4 separate regions of the Homo sapiens genome follow, and all the other regions are linked to region 2. Evidence: fine-mapped expression QTL. A gene starts in region 2. Each other region holds a variant in brackets. All regions are shown on one strand. Distances are from middle to middle.

Region 1 (7,865 bases), 34 kb before region 2:
ACTGAGGCACAAAATGATTAAGTCACTTGTCCATGGGATTTAGCTTTTGAGTGATAGAGTCAAGGTGTGAACTTAAGCAGTCTGGCTCAAATTCTGCAAAGCCAAATAGTGGAAAGAAAGAGAATAAAGCAAATACACTAGGAACAGATGACACCTTCCTTCAAAAGGAGAGAAGGAAGATAGGAGACTCTCCAGGCAGGAAAGACTGACAGCTGCTGTGCAGGCAGAATTAGGAATTTGGTACCTAGTGCCCTCTGGGTAGCAGCCGACCAATGTCAGGCAACACCAGTAAATGACATCCTGGTGTTGGTGTTTATACAGCATGGCTGGGCCAGGGAGGGGATGAAGGCAGGGCCTGAGATGGGTGGAGGGGATGATGCCTTGGAAAGCCAATTCCTATGTCCCAGAGAGATGGAGCAGCTGGGCGGGCAGGCAGGCGGTTCCCTTTCTGCATCCCCAGCACCAGCAGTGCACACATGCCCGGGACACCAGGCTTCGGGGATGCCACTGGGTTTCAGCCTCATGATGCCTGGGAAGCCAGGAAAGACAGGGGTCATCTCTCACCATTTCTACAATGAAGAGCTAAAGCCAAAAACAGTCACAGCCCTAGAATAATAACAACAACAACAGCCACCATTTGTTGGCAGGTTATGATTTGTCAGGAAATATTCTAGATGTGTATATAGATTATGTAAAAATGATACCAACTCTGAGAGGTCCATATGATTATTCTTAATTTGCAGTTGAGGAAAGCTAAGTAATTCTATAAAGGTCAAAGCTAGCAGGCTATGAGAAAGGATCTGAACCACCATTTATCGGACTGTGAGGCCCCTGATCTCACCTCAAAGCCGTGTGTGCTGTGAAATGGTTAAGTGACTTACCCACAACTGTGCAGCTGTGCTAACCCACAGCCAGCTTCTGGGCTGTCAGAGCACATGGGCACAGGCGTTTACTTCCACATACTCCCTACGCTACACATCCACACTAAGTGCTGCTAACCACTTTTATATACACAGTCATACAGTTGGGGTGATTTAATGGTTTATCATCCAAACGAGGATACCTCTGAGAGTGAAAGGGGGCCCTTTTAATAATATTGCTGGGACAACAGGCAGACACCAGGACTGTCCTAGGCATGTAAGAACATGCAGTCACCCGAATACAATCCACACTCCCACAGGCTGGTTATTTTTATGTCCAGTTGTGTTGGTAGAGGACCCTTCTGGGCAATGCCTTGCTTCCCAATCCACACAAATACTCTTTCCAAATAATCCACTCTCCCTGTGTTCACCTGCCTGTCTTCTGAATTCACGGAGCTTGTTGGCCTTATAGATAAACAGGCTGATGCCACTTGGTTATAAAGCAGTCATGTTATGGTTTGAGAAGGCAGGGTGTCACTAATTCAAACAGTGTATTTTAAAAGACTGGTGGGTTCCTTGTGCCCTGGAAGCCCCGGAACCCTAATACCCAGCTGTTCTGATAAGCAGCCTGTCCCTCAAGAGTGAGGACTCTGTGGCTGTCCCATTGAGGACAGCCTGAGACAAGCAGATGGGAAACCAGCACGGGAATACAGCTGCCACCACTACTGGACCTGCTGGAGAAACCGCAGTCTACTGGGAGGACACAGACCTGGGGTCCTCAGGGGACAGGCGCATCTCTAAGACAAGGCCTGGCCTTTTTCTGCTGCCAGCAGGCACCCATCATGCGTGGGAGTGAGCAGCTCTAACCTGGTGAGAGATCCTCCCTTTTCCCCTGACTGGGCCTAGTGGGGAAGGAGGTGGTGTTTAAAGCTCGTTTTTGTTTTACTCTTTCCCTAAGAATCTGCCTTCTTAGGAATCTCTGACAAGAGGAAGGAAGAATCTGCTGTTCTTTTGAAGCCAGGAAATCACTCTTAACAAACTCTCCCATCAATACAGGTAAAGTGCAGAGCTAATGAGAAAGCAGAGGGCATTTGTCTGTTCTCTGAAGAGACCGTTTCTGGCGTATGTTTAATCATGGAGCATCATAGGACCTCGAGGCCAGGGATTTTCAGAGGCCCCAGAGAAGCCTGCCAGCTCCTAGCAGCCCTAGAAACTGGCAGGGCTCTTGGAGGCACTGACGTGCAGGGCTCTGGGCCCTCATCCTGTGATAAAAGGAATAGAGATATTTTTTACCTGTTTTGTGTAGGGGCTTCTGCAAGTGATGATTTTTTGGTAAATAGACCTTTTTGCAAATTAGGCCATGTGCACAGGTTGTGGGAATTAGGGAATGCACTTATCTTCTTACGGGTTACCATTCAACACACAACAGCTGTGATTATGACTATATGTTATAATGTTATTCTGGGGGATGCTTAAGACCTAGAAAAGGAAAGGATTTGTCTGATGCCACCCAGCATGCAGCCTTCCCATGGTGGGAAGCCGAGCATGGAAGAAGCCCAGAGACCAGATAGTGACTAACTGGGAGTGGCCGTGGCTCAGGCAGTCCTAGACAGTCAGAGGCCAACACGCCGGTGATGATGGTGATGGGGCAGAAGATACCAACCCTTATTCACTGAGCATTGACTGTGTGCCAGGCATGGTCTAGACATCACCTGGATGTTCTACCAGCCCTCGCCCCACTCTTGCTGGAAATGGCAGTGCTCCTATTATCCACATCTTACAGATAAGGAGCTGGACAGTCACTCAGAGAGGCTGAGTGATGAGCTCTGGGTTAATGGCGAGTAGATAACGAAGTGCGCATTTGGACTCACATCTGAGGGACCCCCACCTGGGCCCTGACCACTGTACTCTACAGCAAAGGAGAGGACCCAGGCCACCCTCAGAGGTGGTGTTTATGAGTCATGGGGCAGAGAAGGCAATTGCAAGTGGCAAATGGTAGCAGAACCAGAACAAGAGCCCAGATCTCTACTCCTGGGCTCACATTAGTCCCATTTCCCAAGGCTGTAGTTTAACATCTCTCTGTGGTCTTTGTAACACCTGAATGGCCATTAAGGTGAGTGCACCCATGTTCAGGGCAGGAAAACACCTGCCAAACTGGCTGCAGCATTCAGGAAACTCCACCAAGCTTTTCGATGAGTTCACATTGCACTGCCTGAACACAACCGCTGGGGTGGGTTCCTTCTCCTTGAGACTGCATTTTAGAATGTCAGTTACACCAGGTCTCCTTTGAGTGAGGAAGTGGGAGACACATTAGAAACCCAAGGAGACCAGCTTCCTCTTCTCAGACAACCCCAAGC[A/C]ACAGCACAATTGGATGTCAGACAAAGGGTCATTTTTACCTCCCCTCTTCCCATCCACGGCTCCAACTACAGGAGCATCACCATTAGGGAGGGGTAAGGGGCACACCTTAAGCAGGTTTGAGATGTCAGCGGCTGACAGCCTGCCTTGTCTCCATCAGGAAGGCAGCAATAAGACAAAAACCAACAATCTGGGCTGTGGAGTCTGAGCCTGACCACCCCCAGGTGATGCAAGCCAGGAGGTTGCCTTGACTTGGTCTTGACCCGGGTCTACCCCTAACTTGGCCTTGGCTGGGCTGTGTGACCTTTAGTCAGTCACTACTGTCAGATCCTCAGATACAACACCTGTTAAATGCAGATCATATGGAGATATATACCAGCAAGCCTCTTTGGACTACTTTGAAAACCAAATGAGCTATTATATTTGTGTTCGTGTTTTATCTCCACCATTGAGTGGAAAGTTACTTAATAGGAGAGGTCATGTCTCATTCATCTTTACAAATGATTGTAACTAGCCCAGAGCCCTGCACAAATGAGAAGAGGTGATGGTTGAATTGTAAACTTCAGCTTCTCTGAGGGCAGTGAATAGCCCAGCGTAGCTGGGGAGGAAGGAAAGAGGTGGCAGAGATACAGTGAGTAGATGAGTGGAAAAAGAGGCTGTTGTCAGGCTGTGGAGGACTTTACACATACTGATGCTTCTAAATTTCATCTGTAGCTGGATGGTAAGCTGATATCCCAAATGCTTTAGTAAGCATTAGTGGAGGATGGGGCTGTAGAAAGAGCCTGGGGACTCAAGCCCAACAATCATAAACCTCAGTCTCAGGTCTTTGGAGCTAAGCCTTAGTTGCCTTATCTGCAAAATGAGAATAACAACTTCATTCCAGGGTCATTAGGGATACCTAGCATTTAAAGTGACCAGTGCAGTATTTAGTATCTATTTGAATTTCAGCAAATACTACTGCCCTAAATGAGTGAGGCCAAGCTGACCTTGACTATCAGATGTAACGGTATGTTACAGAGGTTCTAGGCCAACGCTGCCTTGGAGTGAGAAACTAAGCAATGGTACCATGGCCACGCTGCAGTGAGGACAATCTAGAGTCAGTCTGGCTACAGTCATGTGTTGTCCAAGTTTCCAGCAATCCTGGTATGCTCTGGTATATCCTGTGAACACCTACAGCCCTCATGTACCCAAAGGCCACATGGTGTCACATGGCGAACACCCCCTGAGTCCCACAGACCACCTCAAAGCTTCCCAGTGCCCCAGCCTGCAGCACTATCTACAAGGGACACTGTCAGGTGGCTTCTGTTGGGTGTTCCGTAGAGACCACTTATGCCATAAGGCCGGCTAGGAGGCACAGCACTCTGGGCTGAGAAGCAGGAGATCTGGGTTCCAGTTCCACATGGCAAGTGACTTGCCCCATGCACAGTGGCTGAACAGTCTTGGGACTCTCAATGCCTGGAAGTGCCCTTCAGCGGAGTGTTTCTATAAGAGCTTAACCTAGGAGACACACTGACATTTGAGAAAGTCATGTTCTTATCAGGCAAACCTCTGCTAAAACTACCCTGACAATGAAGCCTCTTCTATAGAATGCTCCTGTTCAAACCCAACAGGAATATGCTGAAGTTCAGAGGGTGCCTGGTTTCTAGTTTCCACCTTACCAATTCCTGTCTGTGCCACCTCAGGGGAGTCATTACACACTCATGAGCCTCAATTTCCTCATGTGAGCCTCAGAGGCAATGATATATCGCTCATACTATTTTCTAGCAAACTGTTTCCTAACACTTCACAGAAAGTACAGATCTCATTTTATTTGGATACTCTGAGGTTGGTCATCCTTCATCTTTGTGGGAAGAGCCAGACACACTTTCACAAAGCAGGCACGGGGGAAAATGAAAAACTTCCATCATTCTTGGGAAGCGGGAGAGAGTCAGAGTCCATAGGATGAGGAATGATTGAGAATGCACCCATGACAGCTGGGAGCCGGCTTATCTATGATGCTGGCAAGGGTCATCCCTGGCCTCGGCAGACAAACACTGGCAATTGCGCTCCAGACAATAGCACAGCTGCTCTTGTTCCTAGGCTCCCTGCTGTGAGGCAAAGCAGGGGTCATATGATCAGTATTCAGCATTGCATTCGTCCCCAAGATGCAAAGGGATTCTGCCTTCCCCAATAGCACAGGGCTGCAGGAGGGGGGTGCACACCCTCCACCCCAATGAGGGGAGCAGCGGATAGAAGAATAGATAATGATAAGATTCCCCACAGAAACTGACTACAGGAAAATGCAGTTTCCATGTGAGAACCACCACTTCTAATAAAATCCATATTCCTAAGCTGAGGGTACAAGTTCTTCCATAAATGACTGCATACTAATTAGAGCCATCCTTTATGTTAACTCCCAGCTTAAGCCCAAATGTGATTTACTGCAGCTTTGTACCCTCTTGCCCTGCCTTGCAGCCTAGACTTTCACCCCCCACCCTGTCTACCATCCTTCAAGGCCAGCAGCAGAGTTTTACTTCCTCCCTGAAGTGTTCTCTGATACCCACCTAAGACCACAATCCATACTGACCTCTCCCTTTGCTGAACTCTCATAGAACTTTCTGTCTGTGCCACTCAGCATTTAGTGCCTATGAGTTGTCTCATGACTTTTATTTATTTATTTATTTATTTTTGAGACAGGGTCTCGTTCTGTCACCCAGGCTGGAGTTCAGTGGCGTGATCTTGGCTCACTGCAATGTCCACCTCGAATAGTTGGGATTACAAGTGCAGGTCACTATCCCTGGCTTTTTTTTTTTTTTTTTTTTTTTTTTTTTCTGTAGAGAAGGGGTTTCACCATGTTGCCAAGGGCTGGTCTCAAACTATCTGCCAGTCTCAGCCTCCCACGGTGCTGGGATTACAGGCATGAGCCACCGCACCCAGCTACCTCATCACTTTCTGACGGGACTGTTACATCAATCTCCTAACTGGTTTGATCCTGCTTGGGCTGTGGCCCTGTCCTCTGCAGAAAAAAGTTTTCAAAACACACATTTGATGATGTGTCATCCCTGCTTAAAACCCTTCAAGTATTTCCTACCACCTTCATGATAAAGTCCAAATGCCCTACCATGCTCCTACCCTTCCCCTGGGAGTATCCACATTCCAGTCACACCAAAGTGTTTCCCAAGGTTATATAATGAGGTGATATCAAAGGCAGGAGGAGAACCTGGATCGCTGAATAACTAGCTGAGGGTTCTTCCCTCAGTCCCAGGTGCTTCCCAGGCTAACGTTGGACCACAGACAGAATGACTAGGAGCACATGACACTGAGTCATGGTCGAGGTGAAAAAGTCAAGACCAACTAAGTATTTAGGCTTGATAAGCTTACACTGTTGACAGCCAGCCGATCCACTAAGCAACCAAGTGGGCAGCAGGCATCTGAGACTCAGGCAGAGGTTCATCTACTCTTTACACCAACACTAGGAAGGGGATCACTATTTCTCCTTTTGCAGGTGTGGAAAATGAGGCTCCCAGTGGTCACAGCTGCTATCTGGACTAAAACACCAGCCACACCCCTTCTCTTATATTCCAGAATGGTAAAATCCAACAGCCCCCCACTGTCACCACTTTGATGCCTCCCAAGCATCTTACAGTAGACACATCTGATGGTAAGTAACAGCATCTAGTCCCTGCCCAAGAGACCATTCTGTCCAGGACCCCCTTCTGGGGAACTTCATTTCTGCTCTAAGACCAGAGGTATCCCATGACTTTTCTAATTCCTTCAATGGAAAGACTGTGAAAAGAAACTTTCATTTAACAGAAGAGGGGGATAACTCCACTCTAACTGCTTTATGTTTATCCAGAGAAGTTATCAAAAACTCTTACCAGGTGACTGCTTTCCCCACAGCACATCACAGTGATAAGGGCATGTGTCTGGGGGGTGGCAGAACAAGGTCCAGAGGAGAGCAAGACTAATATGTGATCAGCAGCACACATGGACTTGGGGGCATTCTGAGCTGGCTGGCACCAGCTCACCAGATCCAACTGTACAGATCCCTTCCCAACTTCACATTCAGTGACGCCATGGAAGTAGCTTGAAACCAGCCATGGTGGAAGTATTTACACCATGGAAATTGTCCCACGCTCCCAGCAAGTTTGTTTGGCTTTCGTTTATCCCAGATAATTGGTTATTAAGCATTTAGGAGCAAACCACTGAATGGATCCATAAGATGGACACTGGGTTGGGAAGACAAGACTTAAATTGTAGCTAAAGCTCTACCGCCAACTCACTGTTTGACTTGAGCAAGTTTCTTCCTGGTCCTAAGTTTCCTTAACTGTAAAGGACATAAAGAGCACTTTGGTAAATGTAAAATAGGGAGGAGACATTTGACAATGTCTGCAGACATTTTTGGTTGTCACAACTGAGGTAGATGTGGTGCTACTGGACAGGGATGCTGCCAAGCATCCTATCACGCACAGGAAAGCCCCTCTTCCTCCCTTAACAGAGACCTACTTTTCCCAACATGTTCCTAGTGCCAAGGTTGAGAGATCCTGATGGGGAGATAGTCTCACAGTAGCCCACTGAAATACCTTGAACACATCAGCATGCACAAGGAAAATAAAAGGAGTCAGCTTGCAGGAACCCTGGGAGGGCAGTGGTGTAAAACATTGCCACGGA
Region 2 (7,865 bases):
CACAGATAGAATATGTTTCTAAAACTCAGGGTGTTTGCTGCCACTTCAAATTTGTTCTCCTTTGAAAAAAAGAGTGTTGGTGATTCGTGCATTGTTGTGGTATTGTAGAACATAGCTTATCTAGTGAGCAATAATTTGAAAATTAACCAGCAGTGCTAGGAGCCTGAGCATGGGCAATTTTTAACCTTCTCAGATAATGAATGGATCTCCAAAGGCTAGAATTCATCCAAAGAGCTTTGTACCATGGTTTTAAGGGGACCCAGAGGTCCAGTAACTGAGAACGCTTTTCTAATCAATATAACTAAATAACAGCAAGTCTACTGTGAAGTGGGCACCATGCCAGACCCTTTAAATACATAAGATCATTTAAATCTTAGAAGGCAAGTATAATTACTGCAATTTCTCAGATGTAAGAATTGAGACCCAGAGAGGTTAGATGCACCTTCAACCACAGTTAAGACAAAGCAGTAGTGGAGTTTGAACTCATGCCTGACTCTTAAGACCACTTTCTTTCTAATCACCATGATGTCTTGTCAGGTAATTCATGCAGCTCCTGAGACAAGATTCTAACCATGATGAAGTTGGAACCGGAGACTTCTACGAGAGGATGAGTCAAAACTCAGTAAGAAAGGCAGTCCTGGCTCCCTGCCATGCTTCTCTCCCCTACCCTGCTCACAAGGGCTGATGTGTGGCTCTCCAACCATCACTCCATTGCTCCTCAAGTGGACAGTGGAAGGACAAATGTATTTCAGCCCCAAAGCACAAATCACCTGATTCAACCCTCATGGGTGACCTAGTCAAGTGGCCACCTCTGGGCCCTACATCAGCCTGCCCTTCCTTTTATCATACCACCTGTCTAACTGTATTATAAGGATCTTTTTCCATGACTAAATTTTTTTTTGAAAACAGAAATGCTGCTCATTTTTCGAACCCCTAGTTCCCAAAACTGTATTTGGTACAAAGCAGATACTCAATAAATGTAAGATACATAAATAAGTTAGAGGATTCAACATCAAGGCTGGGCAAAATGCCCCTGGAGGATGCCTCTAACCCTGAGATTTTATAGCTTAATTATGCCTAAATTAGTTTTCAATCTCTGGACAGTGGTCCAGGGCTGTCTTTAAGATTGAGATCTCCCAATAGAACTAGGACATTATGGGTCCTTCAGCCTTTCAAAGTGTTCAAAGCATTCCCGGTAGGCTATTCTATGCCATCCTAAAAGAACAAGAAAATGTGGCCAGTAGGATAGATGCTGTCAACCCCATTTTAAAGATGGAGAAACTGAGGCTATATGAGTGAACTGACTTTCTCAGGACCAACATTTGACACTGAGGCTGCTGATTCTCTGGTCTTTTTGTGCTACCATAATACGTGCTCAGCTTATTTTTAACAAACCTAGAGCATGGCAATGTGAAGGGACTGGCAGGGAATGGAAAAGAAGAGCGTGTACTGAAGAAAAAAACACCAGGGAAGGGAAGGAACAGCCTCACTGGAGAGGGTCACTGACAGCTGACAGTGGGTGCCCCTATGGCCCTGGGGAGCTATGAACTCCTTGCCCAGGGCTGGCTTGGGAGGGTCTACTTGACTCTGGGTCCCTGACTTATCTAGTTGCATCTAGGCCTGGGAGCAAATGCAAACTGAATTCTTCTTGGTGCTGAGTAAAAACAGGAAGTCACAAGTGGCTTTGCTCTGCTCTCAGCTGGGGTCCTCAACAGTTCAGGTCAAGGGTACACTTGGGACACTCCAGACAGCTTCCTGGCAGCTCCCTCCACAGTAGTCCAGCAGGGACAGGAAAAGTGGAGACACCTTCTAAAGAGCCTCCTATAGTGTGGGTTTAGGCAGCTGGACTAAGGAAGTCCCTGTGATCCCTCGGACAGGACCAGGGAGCCCAACAGAGATGCGTGTATGTCAGCTTCATCACTTTTCCATTCATTGAACCAAAACTGAGGGCTGACTGTGTGCTCAAATCAATGTGACCTTAGGGAAATAACTCACTTGCTCTGAGCTTAGTTTCCTCATCTGCAAAGTGGAAAGAGCCCCTGCCCCATGGGGCTATTGTGAAGATGAAAGGAAATAACACCAGTGAGGTCCTTTGCCACATTTGGTATCTATTTTTAGCACTGAGGCAGTATGCGCCCACTATGTGCCCAAGCCCGTGATGCTGCTGCTGCCCCCTTCCCAGAGCCAGAGCCCAGAGGCAGGAGGGAATGTGGGCAGGTCTGTTTCCACCTCGCTTTCCCACTCTCCCCTCACAGGAACCCAGGGCCAGCAGGAGGTGAAGTTCTGCCAGCCCCCAGCCTGGGCCCAGCGCCCATGTTTATGACTGTTTATTTCAGAGCAAGTAGAAAGGAGAAATTAGAGCCATGAAAGACAGGACAACGGACCAATAAAAACCAGCTCCCAGAAGAGTCAGAAGGAGGAAGACAGGCAAAACTGTCACCATAGCAACACAAGACAGTCAGAAGCACGCAGGAAAAACAGCCCCTGCTCTGCCTCCTGTCTCCACTGCAAAGCAAGCCCTCGAACCCCAACCAGAGATCAGTGAAAGCCGACAATGATCCACCCAAAGAACTCTGGTACCCAAGCCCAGACCTGGCTAGCAGCCACTCTCCTCCTGCTGCCCCAGCACAAGTCCCAGCCTTCCAGGGTCCCAGATCAGCATTCTGTGCCCTGGGGACTCGACACTGTGCAGATGGCCCAGGTCCCATCCAGAGGAGATAGTGACTGGTGACAGAGAGGAAAGTTTCTAACAGGGAGAAAAGGAGGGTCACAGAGCTTCAGGGGAGATCAGGGCCCTAAACTCCAGCCCCATGACCCTGTCTTGGGTTCCCTGGGGAGCAGGCGGGTAAACAAGGGTGTGGGAGAGGACATCAGGCCCTGGACACAGAAAGATTGCTCCATCAGTTCTGGACCTGGCACCCCCAAAACAGTGGCTGGGGGAATTCTGGGGATGCGTGGGGAAATAGCTTTGGAGGCCTTAAATGACAAAGATCTTGGCCCTGGTCTCTGGGGACACTGGCTAGCGAGTAGGAGCAGCTTGGAGGAGGACCCAGGGACGGGCTGGCCCATTTTGACAGAGAATGTCTCCTGGCAGACAAGACAGGTGTCTCCACCAAAAAGCATGGCTGGCCTGGGACCAGCATTTTGGGAAGTGGGTCAAATTGTTCCCAAAGCTCAGTATTGGAAAAGTGCCTTTTGCCAAACTGGGGTTCTGGGTTCTGGGGGAGGAGAGAGGGTGACGGCAAGGTGTGCTGGGTCCTAGGCACAGCAGCTTTCTGGCTGGCTAAGAACGTCTGTGGCAGGTGGCAACAGAAGGGTCCAGGTGTGCAGGGGCTGGGGAGGGGGCCATCCCTCCCTTTGGGGCTGTAGAGAGTACCCAGGACCCCGGGGCCTCGGGTGGTGGGAAGGGGAGTGTTAGGGGTCCCCTGCAAGAATGGAGCTTATGATACCTGGGGTGGGGGGTAAGTGAGTGAGGGACGAGGGAGGGTGGTCTGGGAAAGGAACACAATCAGGAGGCAGCCCTCTCAGAAAGAGGGCAACGGGGCACAAAGCCGGACCTCTGTCCGGCGATCGCTAGAGAAGGGCTCCCGGACGGTGTCCTCCGCTCTCCCTCCCTCCCAAAGGCTGCAGGGGCGTCCGGGAGGAGAAGGATGGCAGGGAGGCGCCCGCCCCGCCTCGCGGTGCCCCGCGGTGCCCCGTGCAGGCCGAGCCCCGCGCCCGCAGACCCCCGCCCGCGCCCCTGCCGCGCCCCCAGCCGCGCCGCGCTCACCGAGTCGCCGCCGCCCTGCTCTGCCGCCCGCTCCGCCGCCGCCGAGTACGCCTCTCCCGCGGCCGCCGCAGCCTGCGAGACGGCCTCGGAGCCCCGCCCCGCCCCTCCCCGTCCCTCCCCGCCCCGCCCCGCCCCCAGCCCGGCTCGCGGCAGCCGCCCCGCCCCGGCCCCGGGGGATCCCCACCCGCGCTGTCACCGGCCGCGTCCTCACCCTAGCCTGGACAACCCCATCTCTTTGCCCGGCTCTGCTCTCTGCTCCCAGGAGCTGGTGCGGACCCGCCCCAGCACGGTCGCCCCTGCCCCTTCTCAGCCTTGGCCACTTGGCCTTGCCTTCCCAGAGGAAGCCCGAACCAGACCTTTCTGTTTCTGCACACCAAATTCCTCCACACCCACGGTTGCCCTCCAAGAAAAAGAAATCCCCGCAATCTCTAGACGCATATTCACCTTCAAATTAATGCCCAGCCAAATCATCCCAATCCCTAGGCACACTCCAAATTACTTGAGATTCTGAACCCAGTCTCGCTCCCAGTCCCTTTCTGCCCACCCTATTAACAGATCTCCAGCCTTGGGGCCCGCAGTTATCCGATAGGACCACTGTAAAGTCTTCCCAAAGGCTCAATCCAAAACATGTAATTAACCTTAAAGAGTAAGTCTGCAAAAACACTTAAAAAATTCTATGATGCAAAAAGAAAGTAGTGGGTTACAGCGTCATTGACGTGATCATTGTTCTAAAACATCTGCCATGGAGGCTTTTTGCATTAGAGAGAGGGAGATTCAGGAAACCGGAGAGGACTCAGCAGTGCCAAACAGGTTGTGAGTCAGAGCTCCTGTTGAGGGGAGGGAGAGCTCCTGGGGACCCCGGCTTCGGGTGCTTCCTTTCCCAGTCCATCAGCCAGAACATCATGAAACATGTGTTAAATCCCCATAGTGTGCCAAGGTACGTGCCCGAAGCTGCATGGGTTGGGGCCCTGTGTGGGCTGGGATCAGAGGAGGCGGGAAGCATCAGGAGAAGGTGTTCAGGCCCCTCTCCTTTCTGAGATCCAGGGTGTTTCCCCTGGGAGGACTTGTTGCCCAAGCTTCCTTTGCACTCTGAAAGGCTCTCCTGAACTGCCCACAGAGGCTCTTGGTCTGTTTTTTGGCAAAAATTCACAGAGGGCAGGAAGGCACTGTCTAGTTAGAGTGAAATATTTTCCCACTTGGAAGGGGTCCTTAGGACCAGAAGAAACACTTTCCCGTTCTCTTTTTGAGTTTTCCCCATGCCCTAGACCAGCCTCTGTTGTCAATTCCTGCAAAGGTGTTTTTTTTGTTTTTGTTTTTTGAGACAGAGTCTCACTCTGTAGCTCAGGCTGGAGTGGAGTGGTGTGATCTCGGCTCACTGCAACCTCCATCCCCCGGGGTTCAAGCAATTCTCCTGCCTCAGCCTCCAGAGTAGCTGGGACTACAGGCGCCTGCCACCACATCCGGCTAATTTTTGTATTTTTAGTAGAGACGGGGTTTCACCATCTTGGTCAGGCTAGTCTTGAACTCTTGACCTCGTGATCCACCCACTTTGGCCTCCCAAAGTGCTGGGATTACAAGCGTGAACCACCGCAGCCGTCTGGCAAAGGTGTTTTATCTGTGAGTGGCTCTATGAGAAAAGCCTTCTTGCCATGAGGTAAACCATGTCTACTACACACACACACACACACACACACACACACACACACACATACACACACCCCTAAAATTTTCTGGCTTAATCTGTCCACCTTGAGTTTGGCCAGGTTTTGGGAAGAGTGAGGACTAATCAGCCACAAACACCATTCATCCCCATAAAACACTATCATTTCAGACCATGAGAGGACTTTTCACTTTACACCCATCTGTCTCTACTAATACAGCTCAAGTTTGTGAGTAGACTATTTGATGCATGAGATTTCACTTCCACACACTTAGAGATGGCTTCTGTTTCAATAATCGAGGGATACCTGCATGGTATTGCCCAGCCCATTATGAAATAATAGGGTTTTCTAATGATCAGTGTGGAATTTAATAATTGAATGTTTCCTAAGACAAAATTACCAGATGAAAGTCTTTTAACTTTATCAGTAATACTAATAACAAGTTTAAAGGTTATTATCATAAAGATTATAGTGAAATTAAACTGCCATTTAGGAGGCAGGTAAGTTGAGACTGAATTTCAGATGGTTGTCACTCACAATATGTGTGCTAAGATGAACCTTAATATCTTAATTAAAGTAAATGTATACTGAGCTGTGCTAGTTTCAAGGACATCTTTTTCATGTATTTCTTTTTTAAAAGAGATTGATGAAGCATGGACAAAGTGCCAGGCACTGTGCTAAGTAATGGAATAAGGACACAGTTCCCTGGTCTTGAGGAGGACACAGGCAGGCTGCCTGTGGAAAAAGACTAACAGAGATATTTGCTGTGTGGACCCAGGAAAAGAAAGAATTCTTTGTGATTGGGGGAAACTGAGAGCAGATTCTTGAAAAGCGCATTTTTAAGCTAAAATATGACGTGGGAAGTTAGACTTCAATAGGCAGGAAATGCGGACAAAGACACTCCAAGTAGAGAGACAAAGTGGAGGCCTGGGTGAAAAGTGGTCCGGGGTGGCCAGCGTACCAGGGGGATCCCACAACGTGGGACAGAGAGTGGAGAGCTAGAACAACAGCCTGAGAATCTGCACTTGATCCTGGGAGCTCCTGGGGACTGAGTGGCCTTAACCAGAGCCCCGAATAAGGAGCCTGACGATAGGTTAAGGTCCTTAGCAACAGTGAATGGAGAAAGAAGAGAAGGCAGCAGTGAAAATGGTAAGCCCCAGAAGGTTGATTCTATCCAGGGCTCCTCTCCACCCACTGAGACGTATCCAAGGGCATGTGAAACATTCTCTCTAAATCCCTCAGCAACTTCCCTTTACCACCTGACTCCCTTGTCTCTTCAAAGGATCCTTTCTGCTTCTGGACTTTTGCTGACATACCTACCTCTGCCATCTCAGCTACCAAAAATTATTTCTTCCGATGCTAGTGATGCGCCTTGGAGACAGTGTGATACTTTGGGCTCAAACTTCTGTCCTCTGAATATTTCTATAAAATTGACAGTCTGAGCCACTTACTCCTCTGACACATCACTTGTGACAGCTGTTTCTCAGGAGTGGCATGCAGGACTTTTCACATGCACAAGCTTCTCAAGGACAGGGACTTTTTTTTTTTTTTCCCGAGACACAGATGAAACCATAGATTTGAAGTCAAAGCCAAACATAAATCCTAATTCTGCCACTCACTGGATACTTTATCATTTGGTGTTTTTGTTTCCTCTTCCATAAAATTGGAGTAATAAAATCTACCTAAGAAGGGTGATGTGAAGGCTATTATAAACTGCTTTGTAGCTGTGAAAGAAAAAATATGTGAAGTGTTGTGTGTGTGTGTGTGTGTTTGTGGCCTCGTGGTGCCTTGAATTGGACTGAGCATGTAGGAAGTGCTCATTACAAACTGTGTTAAAGTGCTTATTAACCCACTGGCTAGTGGGTTAATTCATAGATAAGGACATGGCAGGGAGACGGAGGGATCCTGTGTCATGAGGCCCTGTAGTGCTCTCTGCTTACTGCTCTGCAAGGAATGAATCTTTATTTTTGCCCTCCAAGCCCACTAATCTCCAGCAGAAATTATATAATGTTTTCTCCCTGGCATTACTATAATGTCTTACAAAGGTGGTGGGTTTTCTTGCCAATTGCTGGCCGGGGCCCCTTTATGTAACTAGGGGTTTCTACGGAAACATGGACTAGGCTTCAGAGGGAGCATAATAGATTTGATTATGAACATTGAGCCAATTTTCACAGCTGACATGAAGCACACTTCCTTGTTGCAAAAATCACAGCCCAAACTGTGTAGAGAAACTTTGTAATGGCTGGAAACCCTTGCCTGTGGCTGAGTTGGAGCACACGACTTAAGCACTCTGACTTTACTTGCTTTTTAATCACTGAGCATGTCAGGCTCTTTCAGACCTTCCTTCCTCTGCACACGATTCGCCACTGTCTTGAATGACCTTTCCACTTGGTCCATTCTTTGAGTTTCTACTCATTATTTTGAAACCTGATTCA
Region 3 (7,865 bases), 93 kb after region 2:
GGCCATACGCAGATGGAGGCAGAGCTCCTTTCTGGTAAGACTGAGTGTTGGTGCTAAACTTGTTAGTATGACAGTGAAGGTCCTCCAGGATCCTGACTCTGCCTAAAATTTCAGGTGTGATTGCCACCTCACCTCCTCTTTCATCCTCATGCCCTGAGTGAAGAATCCCACAGTTTTCAGACAGTAGACTCTTCCCCATGTCCCTGTCATTGCACCTACTGTTTCCTCTGACTGCTGTGTCTTGCCTGGAGTCCCCCCTCATCCTTCAAAGTGGGGCCTGCAGGGCATCGCTTCTGTGGTGCACCTGCTGTCTGTCTGCACACTTTCCCTCCTGGGCTGTGGATGCTTTGAGGGCAGGGGCTGATTGTTTTCTAGTTTGAATCTTCTGTCCTCACCCCAACAACCTTACTGAACCTACTGGTAAAAATACTCTCAATGGAATCAGAGAATCCTACTGTAGCTGGAAGGAACTTCAAGACCATCCTGTTAACCCCCTTCATTTATAGTGGTGGAGAGTGGGAATAAAAGTCCTGAGGCTAAGATAATTTAAGTCACTGGTTGTCATTTGCATCGCTGGTTGGCAATATTTTTGGGACTATCAGCCAATAGTCTTCACTTCCAGGTCATCACAGGGATCCTCACAGGGTTCAAACTAGCTCCTTAATCAGGCCTTTCAAAGAATATAATCTCCTGTTCCTGTCATGTCATTTTGGGGAAATTTTCTCAGTAGCATTTTGTCCACAGACACCCCTGGGATCCTACATCCTACCAAGAACAGAGCCCTGTGTTCAGGGCCAGGCTCAGCCCTTTGTCCCTTCCTGAGCTGTGGACATGGCCACACGTGATGGAGCTGCAGAGAGAGGTGGGCATTGCAATCCTGTTCTTAGATAGGAACTGCCTTCTCTCCCGGGAGAACTCTGCTAGTTGGAGGAGCCGCTGTGGCCTATGCAATGGTCTTGTAAAGAGTTCAGGGCCCAGATGGATCCAGCAGATGCAGAGTGATGGGACTTGGAAGGAGCCCTTCTTAAGTGTCCAGCGGCTGGCTTGTCTCCCTGAGTCCGAGCTGTGTCTTTGGTTAGAGTGAGTGTGGGTGGGGAGAGGGGGCGATCTACACCGCTTGGAGAATTGATGCAAACAGTAAGTAAAAACAACTGTGAAGGGAAACTGGTCCCACGACCCACACTGCTTCATAATCACATTTTTTTCGGCCTTTTGATTCTGGCTTCATCTCATCTGTTTGTTTTGGATGCTTCGTTGAAGCCAGCTACTCCTGAGAAATAGGAAATGACACTATGCAAACAGCTGAAGATGGGACAATCCCGAGTCATATTAAACATGGGATTTTCAAACAATTTCAACAGAAAAAAATCAGTGAACAAAGAAATAGGAAGACAAGATCTTCAAATATCCTCCACTGTTAGCCAGTGAAAATACAAACTGATTTACACATAAATTACATCTTGAGGATGTCTCTCCTGTGGATTTACGAAAAAAATAATTGTCACCACCAATGGGGCTTATTTTTCCTCTGTTGATATTGTTGCCAGGCGGTGATCCTCATTTGCTGCCTCCTTTCTATCCTGTGGCCACGGCCCTAAGTCAGGCTGCATCGACTTCCGGCAAAGCTCCTACCTGTGAGTCTGGCTCTGGTCTGATCCCATGCAGCCTCCCAACCCATCTCTGCATCAGGGTGCAGCCATGCCACTCTCCTAAGCTGTTTGATCCCTTCCTTCTCCAGCTGAAAGCCCCATGATGACCAGATAACTATCATTGCTCTGGGATAATGCAGAGCTACGGACCACTCCATACACCGGGTCTATGTGCTTCCTACCTCCCCGGCTCCTCCCTGCCTCTGTGGTATCTAACTCTTCTTTTAAAATCTAAGTCCCAGCTACCCCAATACATGTTCAGCCCTCCAAACCCCGACTCTCTCATGGCCATGCCTTTTTCCCACTGCCCTCCTACATGGATAGAGCCCTCATCCTCCTAGTGTCCTCCTGCAATGCTTGGCTCACGTGTCAGTTGTTATATGAGTCTTCCTGACCGGCCCGAGTCTCTGTGGGAATTAGGTTGAGCCACTCCAGCCTCGGTGGACCCTCCTTAGACTGTCCTGTCACCTGTAGAGCCCTGTCACCCCTTTTTATGGACCTGTCTACCTGCTGGTCAGAGAATTCCAGAAGGCGGCATCAGCTCTGCCTGAGGCACAGGACACCTGGCACAGATGAAGGGTTAAGTGGATATTTGTTGAATTTGTCAGAGAGCGAGAACAAATCTCAAGTGCGATGGTCCCTGCTCATTCCTCTCTCCAGCCCCTGCCTGCATGTGCCTCTTGTAGAGACAGCTGCAGGGCCCGCAGGCCAGAGCCCCTGGGTCAGAGCAACAACTGCCTTGTGTTTTCTCCAAAAATGAAGATTGCAAAATCCTCGTGGCCTCGAGTTCACAGCTGTGGAAAGAAACTTCACGAGGTGACGGTGGGGTCAAGGGGCCCGGGTGGGGACGTGGGGACCACAGGGCAGGAATGAGCACCCACGGAGAAATGCAGTCCCGACCCCTTCCACCCCTTCAGGTCTGGCTGTATAAACTCGGAGAGGAGGCTGCTCTTCTCAGCTTTTCCCACGTTTCAGTTTTCTCTACATCTGGTTATGTAGCAATGCCTTCTCATCCCCTGAGAGCTAGCACCCCAACATATTTACTGAACATCGGTCTGGGTTATTTGCGTGTCATCAAGCTCCAAGGGCATTCAAATGACCTTCTGGAGGATGCACAGTGCCTTGGGGAACGGCGCCACCTGGTGGTCACTCGGAGTTAATAACCACATTCTAGGGCGAGGAAGCCTAGAGCATACTGGAGGGACCAGGTGGAGGCTCAGATTAAACAATTCCTGCTGCCGCTGACACATCTGTTCCATGGTGACAGAGCTGAGTGTGTGTCCCTGGCTAGAGGCAGTGATTGGACAAGGATGGTCAAAATGTATCCTTCTGGAATCTGAGCGCTGAAGGGTGGTTTAGAGACCAATACAATCCCAACCATTCATTTCTCAGATGGGCAAACTGCAGTCCAGAGGGGACAGAGGTTACCTAAGGTCTTTCAATAAATTAGTTGAAGAGATGGGGCAATAACACAGGTTTCTGGGCTCCTTGTCTGATACTCCTCCATTCTAGCACTTCAGAGCACCTCACGGTGATGTCCGTCCTTTATTTTATTTTATTTTTTAATTTGAATTGCTGCTTTAGACGAAAAAGAAGGCCAACCCCCCGCTGCCATAAACATCTTCTTTCTCTTTCCTAAATTCATATCACTTGGTCCCGACACCAGTCTTCCTTCCTCCAGGAAGTTTTCCCTGAGCAGTTGGAAATCCTCCTTCGGAAGCTCCCAGGCAATCTACCCGATACTGATAGAGGGACCGAAGTTGACTCTGGGATATGGTGTGCACAGACACAGCCTTGCCCCCAGCAGCTTACAGTCTAGTGGGGAGAGACAAGTGACAAACACACAGACAGACAGATAGATGCAGAAATGATGGATGGATAATTTCAGGTACTAACGAGGGCTTTGAAGATGATAAATAGGGCACTGTGATAAAGAATGGCTTGGAACGGAGCTATGTCAGCTAGAGGGAACGGGAGGCTGGTCTGAAGAGGGCTTAGCTGTGGAGGACAGGCAGAAGGTGGTTATTATGAGGGGAGAGCACTCCAAACAAGAAGAACAGTAAGTGCAAAGGACCCAAGACTGGAATGAGGTTGGCAGGTCCAAGACACAGAGAAGGCTGGAGAGATAGCCGGCTAGCGGACAAGACAGAAGTCGAAGATGATGGGATCAGAAAAGACAGGGAAGGCTGGATCTGGAAGGACTAGTTGGGTTTGTATGCTGCTTGCAATGGGAGGTCATCAGTAGGCGTAGGCGGAGAGTGGCATGATCTTATGTATACCTTAAGTGGTTCGCATGTGCACTAATGCTTAGGAACTCCTGATGTAATCCCTCGGCTCCTGCAGAAAGTCTTTTCTCACCCACCAAGTTAAGGAAGGTGTCCTTCATCCGACTCCTTGAGTTAACATCTTCATGCCTCCATCGCTGGGCCTACCACCTTGCTTTCGAATCAACTGTTTATATGTCTTTTTACTTCACTGGAAAGTAAGTCCAATATTCAGAGACACAGCAGTACAAAGTCAAGATCCAGAACAGACTGTTGAGATGCAAAAACTCGCTCTACCACTTCGTAGCAGTGTGGCTTTGGACAACTTATTCATTCAGCGTGTCTTTGCTTCACTTTCTTTATCCGAAAAATGGGGCTAAC[A/G]GTATCTCCTGCATTGGACCGTTATTACAGTTAAATAATATATGAAAAAAATCTCATAAAAATGGCAGGCACTATGTAATTATAAATAATAGATATCATTTCTGGGTGTTTTCTCAGGCCTCCCATTAATAAGGTTGGTCCCAGAGTCTGTCAGGGCCTCTGGCTGTGGTGTGCATTGCTCATTGAATGGGGATATGGGACTACACAGGGAAGATTATTCCGGGATACAGTTTCTGGCCTTGGAAGAAAGAGTTGGCCTGCCAACAAATGTAAGAGGCAGGGATTGTTCTTAGCTTCATTTTATAGGCAAGCTCAGAAAGGGTAGTTTGCAAAGTGACCCAGGTATTAAGTATTAAATCCAGGATGCAAATATAGGTCTGTTTCACTCAACATCCAAGGTTGTTCTTTCTAGTTTTGTTTGTTTTAATTTGATTTTAACCCCACAGCACCATGCATGGGTAACAGCTGGCCTTAGAGCAAATGTATTGCCCTAAACGATCATACTGGTGTCCGAAATCCTGCCATCAGCCATCTGCCTTGTCCATATGAGGCCCAGCTTTCTGGTAGGGGACTAGGCTCTTGGGTGCAAAGGTGTGAGTTTTAAGCTCTAGGTGACAACACGATAAATATGGAACTACAATGTCTTTCTCAGACCCTGACCCCAAAATGGAGGTAACGATCCCCATTACCTTCCAAAGGGCTAAGCCCACAGAAGCTATTAATGGTGTTCAAGCAGATTCTGGTGGCTACTCTCAGATCAGAAGAGGACCTGGGTACGCTAGCCTTTAAATTTTGAATGTGATGAGGATAAACAGCAATAAAATGAAAGTGGCATTTGAAAAAGAAATATTTTCAGAAACAGATTGAAGACTGAAATTTGCATTGTAGTTGTGTCTATCAAGCTTTCCCTTATCGTGTTTAAATTAGAACTTGCTTATACTTTTTGAATTTATAATTTGCCCTCTTTCAAAATTGCAAGGATACAAACATAGGCAGGCTTGTGCTGGGAAGTAGCAGGGCCTGGTGGTCAAGAAGAGCACAGGACCCGGAGCTTAGAGGACTGGCTTTGATCCCCAGACTTCCATTCATAGATCTGGGACCTATATGAGTTCTTCAACTCTCTTTGCCCAATTCCTCTTTGTAAGATGAGAGTGACAGTGGTACCTGCCTCCTGGTGACTGGCACTGCTTAGAAGAACACTTGGCCCATAATTTTGTTAGCGGTTATTGTTACTGTTGCTATTATTGCTCTAAAAAGTAATTTGAAGGCTGGGCGTGGTGGCTCATGCCTGTAATCCCAGGACTTTGGGAGGCCTAGGTGGGCGGATCACGAGGTCAGGAGTTCGAGACCAGCCTGGCCAACATAGTGAAACTCCGTCTCTACTAAAAACACAAAAACTAGCAGGGCGTGGTGGCGCGCACCTGTAATCCCAGCTACTGTGGAGGCTGAGGCAGGAGAATCGCTTGAAACCAGGAGGCAGAGATTGCTATGAGCCCAGATCACGCAACTGCACTCCAGCCTGGGTGACACAGCGAGACTTTGTCTCAAAAAGACAAACAAACAAACAAACAAAACAAACAACAAACAAAAACGTGATTTGAAATCTTACTAAGAAAGAAAAGAACATTACACCAGGGCTAGTGACAAAAGAATTCTTGAAATAAAGTTCCACATTTGGTTTTATGTAAAAACAGAACCCACATGTAAAACCAAGCAAAGCAAAGGAGAAGTACAGTACTTTACAAGGTTGTTATGATAAAGCACAATCTAGTTCGCTGGAAGAGTTGACTGCTGTCACAACAAAGTGACCTTGAAATTCCAGAAGTAAAGCGTCTGCCTTCAGCTGTCCTTGCCCATGTTGCTTCTGATTTTTCATTATTTGGGTTGGTGTCTTTCCCTTCAAAATCCAGCACAAGGCTGCCCCATCTCCCTGCCTCCAGTGCCATGGTCCCGCCACTGTCCCCCCTCCCCGGGATTGCTTCCCTGAGCCTCAGTCTCCTAGGTGGTCTCCCTGTTTCCACACTTGCCCCTCCGCAGTTTCTTCTCCACCCAGGAGATGAGTAAACGCCCAGGTCCTTCCAGGTCGCTAGAGCCCTGTGAGATGTGACTCTGGGCACTTCTCTGATTTCTCACATCTCCTTCCTCACTGCATTCCCACCATCCTGTGCCCTCAGTAAGGCTTATGAACCTCTGCAAACAAGTGGGTCCAAGGGCTTCCTGGGAGCTGTAATAATTTGCTCCTTCCCTTTCCCTTTCCTAACATTTCCTCTTGTTTTCTTCTCTTCTCTCTCTGTGGTTTTTATTCCTCAGTTACTAAATTACTGATTGTGTTTCTCAACCAAAGTGGAGTTCGGTTCTCTTGGTATAGCAAATGGACACACCCATTCCCCTCTGAATTAAAAGCACATTTCATAGACACGATTCAGAGGGACCCTTACAGAAAGGTTAAAGCTTGTTAAAAATAGTTTCTAAACAAGTCAGTTATGAGCTTTATATTTTTATTTCAATGAATTTGCTGCAAGAGTAGAAAATTCTTAGTCCTACAAAAGTTTATTAGAAAATTACTCAACAATTTTGTCAGAAATTCTAATTTCTTCCAAGAAGAAAGATACAAATAACTTTATATAAAAACATTCTTTCCCAGAAAGTAAATCAGTATATCAAAGGAATACCTGCACTCCCATATTTACTGTAGCACTGTTCACAATAGCAAAGATATGGAATCAACCTACACATCCATCAACAGATGGTAGATAAAGAAAAATGTGATATATATATGTATATGTGTGTATATACATATATAATCACATCTTCACAGTGTATATGTGTGTGTGTGTGTATATATATATATATGTATACATACACACACACGCACACACACACACACTGGAATATTTTCTGGCCATAAAGAAGAATGAAATGTCATTTGCAGCAACATGGATAGAACCATAGGGTATTATGTTAAGTAAAAGAAGCCAGGCACAGAAAGACAAATATCACCCGTTCTCACTCAGATATGAGAACTAAAAAATTGGGCCTCACAGAGGTAAAGAATAGAATAATAGGTACCAGAGGCTGGGAAGGAAGTTTGGGTTGGGGAAGGAGATGAAGAAAGGCTGGTTAGTGGGTACAGACGTAGTTAGATGGAAGGAATTAGTTCGAACGATAGATAGCACAGTAGGGTGATGATCGTTAACATGATATTGTATATTTCAAAGTAGCTAGAAGAGAGGACTGGAAAAGTTTCCAACACATAGAAATGATAAACACTCAAGATGATGCCCCAACTTAATCATCACACATTCTATGCATGTAACAAAATATCATATATGCCCCATCAATACATGCAAATATTATGTAACAATAAAAAAAGTTCCTTCCCAGACCAGGTTTGGTATAATTTTTCCTACTCAATGGTTTGGCAAGCACAGTTTAGATGGAATTTTACCAAAGCCCTGCTTTTCACCATGTGACCAAGTTCCCAGACTGAAAGGGTCGGCACTGAATGAGATGTTACTTTATTCATGATTTGTGCCTAGGGCAGCCATGCAGGACCCAAAGGGATTTAGAT
Region 4 (7,865 bases), 62 kb before region 2:
CACTGAGAGAAGACATGGCTTCCGCATTCAGGTGATGCACATTCTATTTAGGGAAACAGCACTAGTTAAATTAAACAATTTAATCTATCTAGAAGCACGTATCACATTCCTGATAAATCATAAGTACTCAAATATATTAATTGAATGTGAAAATAATAGTATGTCCCCGCTACATATTAAGTAACAGAGTAATTATAGTTATTACTACTATAATTTATGAGAGAAACTGGAACATCAGCATTTTATTGAGTGCCCACTGTGTGTGTGGCACTATACTTGAAGCTTTCACACACTTTATCTCATTCAAACCTTACAGCAAACATCAGGTAGCTATAATTATCATCACATTGATTGGGGGGATAAAAAGGAGGTTCGAATGGCTAAACAATTTTTCAAATACTACAAGAAAATAAAAGATAGAGTCACATTTGACATTGAAACTCTGTGAATCTGAAGACTATGCTCTTTTCTGCACAGTAGAAGTCCTGGGGCTCCACATCCCTAGGAGGCCCCTGCCTGGGGACTTCAGAGAGTGTGGTCAGCTGAAGGTATGTGTAGGGTGCTGTATTGTTGAATGAACACGCTCATTTTTTCTGGGGAGACAGCCCATAGCTTCCATTAGATTCCAAAGGGGTTGGCTCTACACTAGTGCTACTCAATAGCATGTACAGGAAGGGAGGTGTTTCTTTAGGAAATGAAGGAAAAGAGAAAATTATGTGGGGTGAAGTCTTCTGGAAGAGTTTGCTCGATAGAAGAAGCAAGCTGCCACCCAACGTGAAGAATACTGGGAATCCGGGTTGGCTGAGAGAAGCCCTCCAGCTGAGGGGGTTGGGGGGGATTCTGAGTGTGAAGGGAACACAGAATACACATTGGGTGACCCCTCAATCCTCCAAAAACAGAGAATTTCTTCCTCAAGATTCATTTACTGTGCTAGTATTTTGAAATAGGTTATTCAATTTTTTTCCCCCAAATAGTCTAGAATATGGGTGTTTCTCTAGTCATTTTAGGAGTGGTAGCAATGCCTCTAAAGCCTGCCTGCACGCCCTTGCCAAGGGAGGCACTCATCTTTAAGGGGTGACAATTTTGGATGTACTCATGGTATTTTCTATGACCGCTTTCTTGGCTCTCAGTTCAAAACCACTTCTATGAGAGTTGGCTTTAAGGCTATTCAGTGGAAAACCATGACTCTCTTTAAGAAATAATTCTCTAGTCACATTTCCAGTTTCAAAAAAAAAAAAAAAGAGAGAATTCATATATGCAGACACTGTTTTTCACTATTTGCAACTCTATTTTTGTTTAGAAGAAAAATAAGTTGATAGCATTAGCTGCACTCCCAGAGTATAAAACCAAATGAAATCAAGCAGGGTTTATTTTAAAAAGAAGTGACTGTGGTTTATGGAGAAATTCATTTGTTTTCTATAAATAAGACATATCAAAGGAAGCAGGCCCAGGGAACAGGGCAGTGTGAATGATGACCTCTGCCTGTGTATACCAAAATTTCAATGCTCAACCTTCATGAGTAGATCACAAGCTCCTAGGAGATTTCTTTCTTTGGTTATGACTATTTGAAAGGAGAATTCCTAAGCCAATGCTACTTTTTATCAATAATGAACAGAAGGTGAGAAAACAAATCAATACAACAGCAGCCCTACCAGGGTTTATTTTCTAACATTTTTTTAAAATCTAAGACAATAATACTCATCTCTAACAGATAAGAAGACCTCTATCAGAAGGGATAGATTTTCTTATCATTTTGAATGACCCAATACCTTCCAGAATCTATAATCTTTAGCCTCTCTGGTGCAAAGACTTGAAGAAATCGAAGACTCAGATTGCCTATAACAACATTTTGGGAATAAGGAAGTCCTGACTCATCCAATTTTTTTTTTGGCAACATAGCATTTAAACTACAGACTGACCATGAATACACCAATAACATATATTTATATAATTTCACATCTTTGTCAAAGATGTGTCTGATTGCATTTATCTTCAGTATGAACATATGTCAAAGGGAGAAAAGTTATCATTGGACCCATTTTACGGGTATAAGAACTCCATGACCAGGTATAGTAAGTGTCCTTCCCAAGGTCCTCCAGATGGGTCCTGGACTTCATAATATACAGGCCCCCTACATCCCCAAATTTAATCTGAATACACTCCATATTAGAACTGGGGTCATCTTTTTAAAGCTCTCATTTTACAAAAAAAGAATGGGTCCAAGAATCCACAGCACATTAGGGTCAAAGAAGGGACTAGAAGAGAGATGTTGTGGCTCTCAATCTCATGCTCTCTCCATTAATACAAAGAGTAAATGGGGCATCAAGTTCATTTTCTAAGACATGATGAACTCAGAATGCTCTTTGCTCCCTAATAAGGACACCCTCGCTGGTGGTCCAGAATAATTTTTTTTTTTGCACACTTTCCTTCCTTCTCAATTTGATTTTCCTGATTCATACCCTTGGCAGAGCTTGCCAGTATCCTGCAAATAGTCTCCAACTTGATCTTCCTGACACCAGTCTTGTCTCCCTTCTACTCATTTCCATGCTGCCGGCAGAGCCATTTTCCTAATCACAAATCTGAGATACTACTTCCTTGCTTAACATGCTTCTGTGGCTCCCCAGTGCCTGTCGGACAGAATGCATTCAAATGAATGCACTGGGCACAGAACGCCTGGACCCCGCCCCCTCCACTCCAGCCTTGCCCTGCACATCCCATCCCTAGAGTGGCTCTGCTCTTGACTGCCTCAGGGCCCTTGCACATGCTGCTCTGTCTGCTTAACATTCTTAATGATCTGCAGGCCAGAGTGAGGAGGGTGCTTTATGTATTGCCATATTTTAATTTTTACAACAACCATATGAAATAGTTACTGCTATTATCCCAGTTTCAGAGATAAATAATCTTAAAGACTTAGAAACTTACTGCATCTCACCAGTGACAGATCAGGGTCACTGGAATCCCCTTCTATCTGACATCTAAGCACCAGCTCTTGGCAATTGCTTCCCCCACACTTCCTTTGAAGTAGGAGGGTGAAGATCAGGACCCTTGGAAGGACCCCCTGAGCCCTCCCTCCCCCTCTATTCTACACCAGTAAAAACAAAAGCCACTCTTCTGAGTGAGCTCCTCGTCTCTGCTCACCTAACATGTCTTGTGGGCCATGCAACAGTGCCTATCGCAGCAAACCATAATTACATACGCTTTCTCCTGTATCTCCCTGTCTTCTAGGGCAGGGCTGCTTTTACACCACCTTGTATTCCCAGCACTTAAGGACAGGACTAGCATGTAGTAAGCACTGAAAAATAAATCCTTAGGATTGTTCTGACTAGTGGTTCCCAAGCCCTCCAAGGCAAAATGAGAAAAACAAAGCCTACGTCATGAGCCTTTCAGAAAGTTATTCAAACACTTCTATGTTACACGGTTTTTATTTATGTTGGAAAATGATGTTGTAATTATATCCTAAATATGCCAGGTTTATTTGGAAATGTTACTGGTTTTTGAAATCCTGAAGTCTAGGAACACGCACCTGGGCTATGCCTTGTGTGGGGCTGGGAGCAGAGCTACAAGCGTGACCTGGCCTCTCACGTCGTCAGGCCAGCGCCTTCATCTGCACCTGCTACCTCGCTTTGTTTTATCGTTAAGTCTGACCTTCTAGCTACTATGGGGCCCCAAGATTTCCCCAGCAGGGTAGAAGAAAACAGAGTAGAGGAAAACAGTCCAGTTTTGGCTTTAGGAATGTTTCTGGAGACTGGATGTGATTTTAGGAGGGCAATTAAGACAATCTACCTTTCAAGCTTATCAGCAAGGTTCAGAGTTGGAGAAATCCTGATGGGCAGCCAGGGCGGCCACTGTTGTCAGTGACATCAAAGGCTTGCAGATGTCCCACAGTGCTCTGCAAAGCCAGCAGCACTTCTGGCTCCTCCCAGCCATCGTCTGGCATCCAGTGGGTGTCCCAGGAGGAAGGGGCCCAGCCCTGACATGTCTAGTATTCAGATGACTCAGACACGCTTTCTCCTGGTCACCACAGAACCCCGTTTACAACATGTACACCATCTGACTGTTTTGAATTACAAGCAAAACAAACTACCCACTTCCATTTAATCATCAGCTTACAATATATCAATAGGTGGTGTTAAAAAATACTTCTCATCTAAAGGTACATTTCTTAAATGATATAAGCAGCTGTTTTTCTGGGGAAAAATATGCACCACTGGAATGAAGTAGCTCAGTTGATACATTCTGGGAGCCTGTATTTGCTAAGCCAGGTTAGCCATTTTAGATGGCGGGGCTGGGCTTGCACATCCCTGCTCCATCTGCCATTTTTTGCAATGAAGTCATGAGGTTTTCTGTTCCATTGTCAAATGTATTGCCAAGAATCCAACAGACGATTTCATTCCGAGATGAAGGAAGAAAACTGAAGTGGAGTGAGTCTATTAAGCACTTTCATCTGACAATAAAAATGAGTTAATGGCTAAAGTGTGTTTTCAAAACGTTTTAACACTACAAGTAATGGCACTCAAATGAGAAAATGCCTTGAATATTCTCATCGATCATTAATACCATGGTGTCCCTCAAAAGGGCTTGGCATTCCCCATGGAATACAAGCTGCTAGAGTCCAGTTGTAAGGCAATTCACGGGAATTCTAAAAAAAAAAAACCA[C/A]GAAACCATTATGGAATTGAACAATTAAGTGCAGGTTTAAAATAGTTCTTTCAATATCTGAGTTCAGTTTTCTAAAATAGACTATTACCTCATCATAGCTAATTTTTCCATAAACATCAATAGTACAGCAGCAAAAAGTACCCAAGAAATGAGGGCAAAATTAGATTCTTTTTTAGGGAATGAAAGTCAATGTGTCCCCCACTTTCAAATGCTAGTGACATGGAAGCAATCAAACTGGGCTCAGCTCCGGCCCAGGCCACCGCTGGGAAGTCACTAGTGAATCTGTCCCCTTTCTCTTGGGAAATCAAGAACATGCTTATGAGGAAACTGCTTGAGACACCTGCTTCTTACCTAGGCAGGTGGACACTCTCAGCCTACCCAGGCCCGTTCTGCCTAATTTCAAATGGAAAGGTACCCCATGCAGGGCAAGGGGCCCCAGAGACCCAAGCACTCATCTTGGAGACACCATTCACTTAGTGTCATGTTGGGCAAGTTGCTCTTCCTCTCTTGGTTGGTTTCAACTCCAGTCTAGAAAGTAAAAGGGAACACCTAGAAGTTATCTCAAATTTGGGCTGTTCTGATAGTGAATTCGCTTAAACAGGCTGTCAGTTTTTTGGATTACAAACCTCCTTTCTTCAGAATTCATTCTCAAGTATTTAAATAAACAACAGCCAAGACCCTCTAACCCTCTGAGAGCAGAGCTGTAGGTGAAGGCTTGTCATGGGCACCGCTGAGCAACTTCTCCTTGCTGAGATACTTGGGACCCATCTCCTTCCTCATCTCTCACCTCTCTGGAAGTTCCTCCTCAAGTTTCTACTTTGTCCATCTGGCCTTTAAGTCTTGGTCTCCATGTTCTTTCTTCAGCCTTTTCTCATTCTCCCTGGTGTGACCCTTCTGACTCCAATTTCCACCCATAGGCAGATGACTCTCAACCTCTGGCTCTATATTAGACTTCTGTCCCCAGCTCCAGGCCCATCAATCCAAGTGAATGTCCCACAAGCATAGCCATTCGGGGAAGGCCATAGAAACCTCACTTTCCACTCTTTCCAAAATCTTCTCCTCTTCCCTCACCCAACAAAAAGCATTATTATCCTCCCAGTGTCATAACCAGAGCCCTGGGCACCACCTGAGATTTCTCTACCTGCTGTACCCCTTGATCCACTCTCCCACCAAACTCTCTCCATGTCTCCCTTAGATCCATTCCTCTTCCCGATGCCCTTCTCTTGGGTGTCCTCCTCCTTTCTCTCTCTCCAGTCTCTCTCTCTCCTCCTCCCACTCTTATATTGGATACTTGAGACCCCTGGGATCATTCACCAGTCTCTGAACATGTTACAGGGAATGTCACATATACAACTAATTCTGGGGAATTAAATCTCTTCCATTCCTGTTGTCTTACAATATAACTAAAAAAAAAAAAAAACAAAATGAAAAAGAGGCCTTCTCCTTTTCCCTGCCCAGCTTTCATTCCACAGGCAACTGTGTCACACATTTGTTCTTGAAGTTTATCTGCCTCCATAGTTCTCTGGCAGGTGGTAAAATACAACCTATCAGGTCAAGGGACCAGGAGGCGAGTCCTGATGAAAATGGTCCTTCTGGGAAGCAAAAGGCCCTGCAGAATTCGATGGCCCCAGGACCTTGGGATGACTCGACATCTAAGAAGGTTTTCAGATGTTGAGTTTTCTTAAACTGGAGCTCATCTGGGTACCAAAGGAGGCTTTGGATGTGACATGTCAAAGCAAAGGAGCAAAGGAAATTTGCTCCCAGGTCAAATTTATTTTGGGAAGTGCAGGGGGATATAAAAAATTATGTTGGTACCGAAACAAAAAAAAATCCAATAAAAGCCATCACATACAAAAAACCTGAAGAATATGAGGCCAAGAGAGATTAGCATGCTCCGTGAAATCTCAAGCATCAAGAATGTCCAAAGTGTTGAAACTTCACTTGAAATCTCAGAGACAGGTGCGGCTCTGCCTTTGTTTCCAGCTTCTGAAAGGAGCAATTGCCCTTGTTTCAACGTACTCATCATTGCAAACAAAACTAACATGTTAAAATAAAAGCCCTGGCTTGGTACCCGAGCAAGCTGTGCAGACGGTCAACCTAAGGCTGGGACAGGAAAGGTGGATGAGGTGAGAGTCTGCAGAGTGGTGGGAGGTGGGCCTGTCAGGCAGGGAGGGGCGGGTGGGGGGTGCTACTTCCTGAGACAGAATCCAGGGAGCAAATAGAATACAGAGTTAGCTGAGTCGACGAAGTTAGCCATGGTTAGCATAAACGCCTGCTAAGCTGGCTGTCAAATAAAGCTGGGTAAATTTTTTACTTGGTATGCAAGGCTATAAGCCTGGCTTAGAGCTCTCTTTCAAGATTCCGCCCCTCTGCTGAAGCTACTCTGATCACTCTGTACATAAGCCACACCAGAATATGACAGTGGAAGGGCTCCTGCCTCCTTGCTTCTGCCTTTTTTCTTTTTTTTAGATGGAGTCTGCTCTGTCATCTAGGCTGGAGTGCAATGGCACTATCTTGGCTCACTGCAACCTCTGCCTCCCAGGTTCCCGGGTTCAAGCGATTCTCCTGCCTTAGCCTCCCAAGCAGGTGGGATTACAGGTGTGTGCCACCACACCTGGCTAATTTTCGTATTTTTAGTAGAGACAGGGTTTCACCATCTTGGTCAGGCTGGTCTTGCACTCTTGGCCTCAAGTAATCCACCTGCCTAGGCCTCCCAAAGTGCTGGGATTACAGGTGTGAGCCAGAGTGCCCGGTCCTTGCCTCTGTTTTCTTGCTCATACTGTTCCTTTTGCCTTGAACGCCTAAAGACGGCCTATCGTTTCTCCCAGTAACCTCCTCCCCAAACCCCAGGCATAAGTAAGCACCTTTGCTGTTGTGGATTCTTGCAGGGGCTATCTCTGACTGGCTGTCAGTGTTTTAGCCATTTCAACCACTCCTCCTCACTCCTCCCCGCCCAACCACCAAGCAGGGTCCCACACATCGCATTATTCATTTATGGCCACTGAGATGGATGGGAAGGACTGGATAAGTAGTCACTACCCAGCAACAACAACAAAGACATCACCCACACAGACTGAGCAGAGAAAACAGTCATTGGTGAGAGAAACGGGTCTGAGAAAAATAAGCATTTCCCCAAATATAAACACTTTTGGGTGATTAGCCCTTTTGTTTTAGGACCAGAGACTACTTTGAAAATCTAATGAAAACTG

Direction of the effects. Positions count from the first base shown, and alleles are read on the strand shown. Sizes are in standard deviations (SD) of each study's normalised expression. Not every link is listed here.
As copies of G replace A in region 3, the expression in adrenal gland of the gene that starts at base 3,824 in region 2 goes up (moderate effect, 0.50 SD a copy in GTEx).

What was found.
Region 1: its variant is fine-mapped to the expression of CYRIA in whole blood (TOPMed, PIP above 0.99).
Region 3: its variant is fine-mapped to the expression of CYRIA in adrenal gland (GTEx, PIP 0.98).
Region 4: its variant is fine-mapped to the expression of CYRIA in whole blood (TOPMed, PIP above 0.99).

The regions. Positions count from the first base shown.
Region 1 is chr2:16,627,548-16,635,412 of GRCh38, forward strand. All of the region lies in intron 1 of CYRIA (CYFIP related Rac1 interactor A), which reads right to left. Among named protein-coding and RNA genes, the nearest start is that of CYRIA, 34 kb to the right of the region's middle. The variant A/C (reference allele first, on the strand shown) is at 3,218.
Region 2 is chr2:16,662,011-16,669,875 of GRCh38, forward strand. CYRIA (CYFIP related Rac1 interactor A) reads right to left here and starts at 3,824. Exons shown (of 12, transcript NM_030797.4): 1 at 3,770-3,824. RefSeq lists silencers at 3,741-3,790, 3,861-4,030.
Region 3 is chr2:16,754,583-16,762,447 of GRCh38, forward strand. No RefSeq gene overlaps it. Among named protein-coding and RNA genes, the nearest start is that of CYRIA, 93 kb to the left of the region's middle. The variant A/G (reference allele first, on the strand shown) is at 4,295.
Region 4 is chr2:16,600,486-16,608,350 of GRCh38, forward strand. The region is part of intron 2 of CYRIA (CYFIP related Rac1 interactor A); the gene reads right to left. Among named protein-coding and RNA genes, the nearest start is that of CYRIA, 61 kb to the right of the region's middle. The variant C/A (reference allele first, on the strand shown) is at 4,657.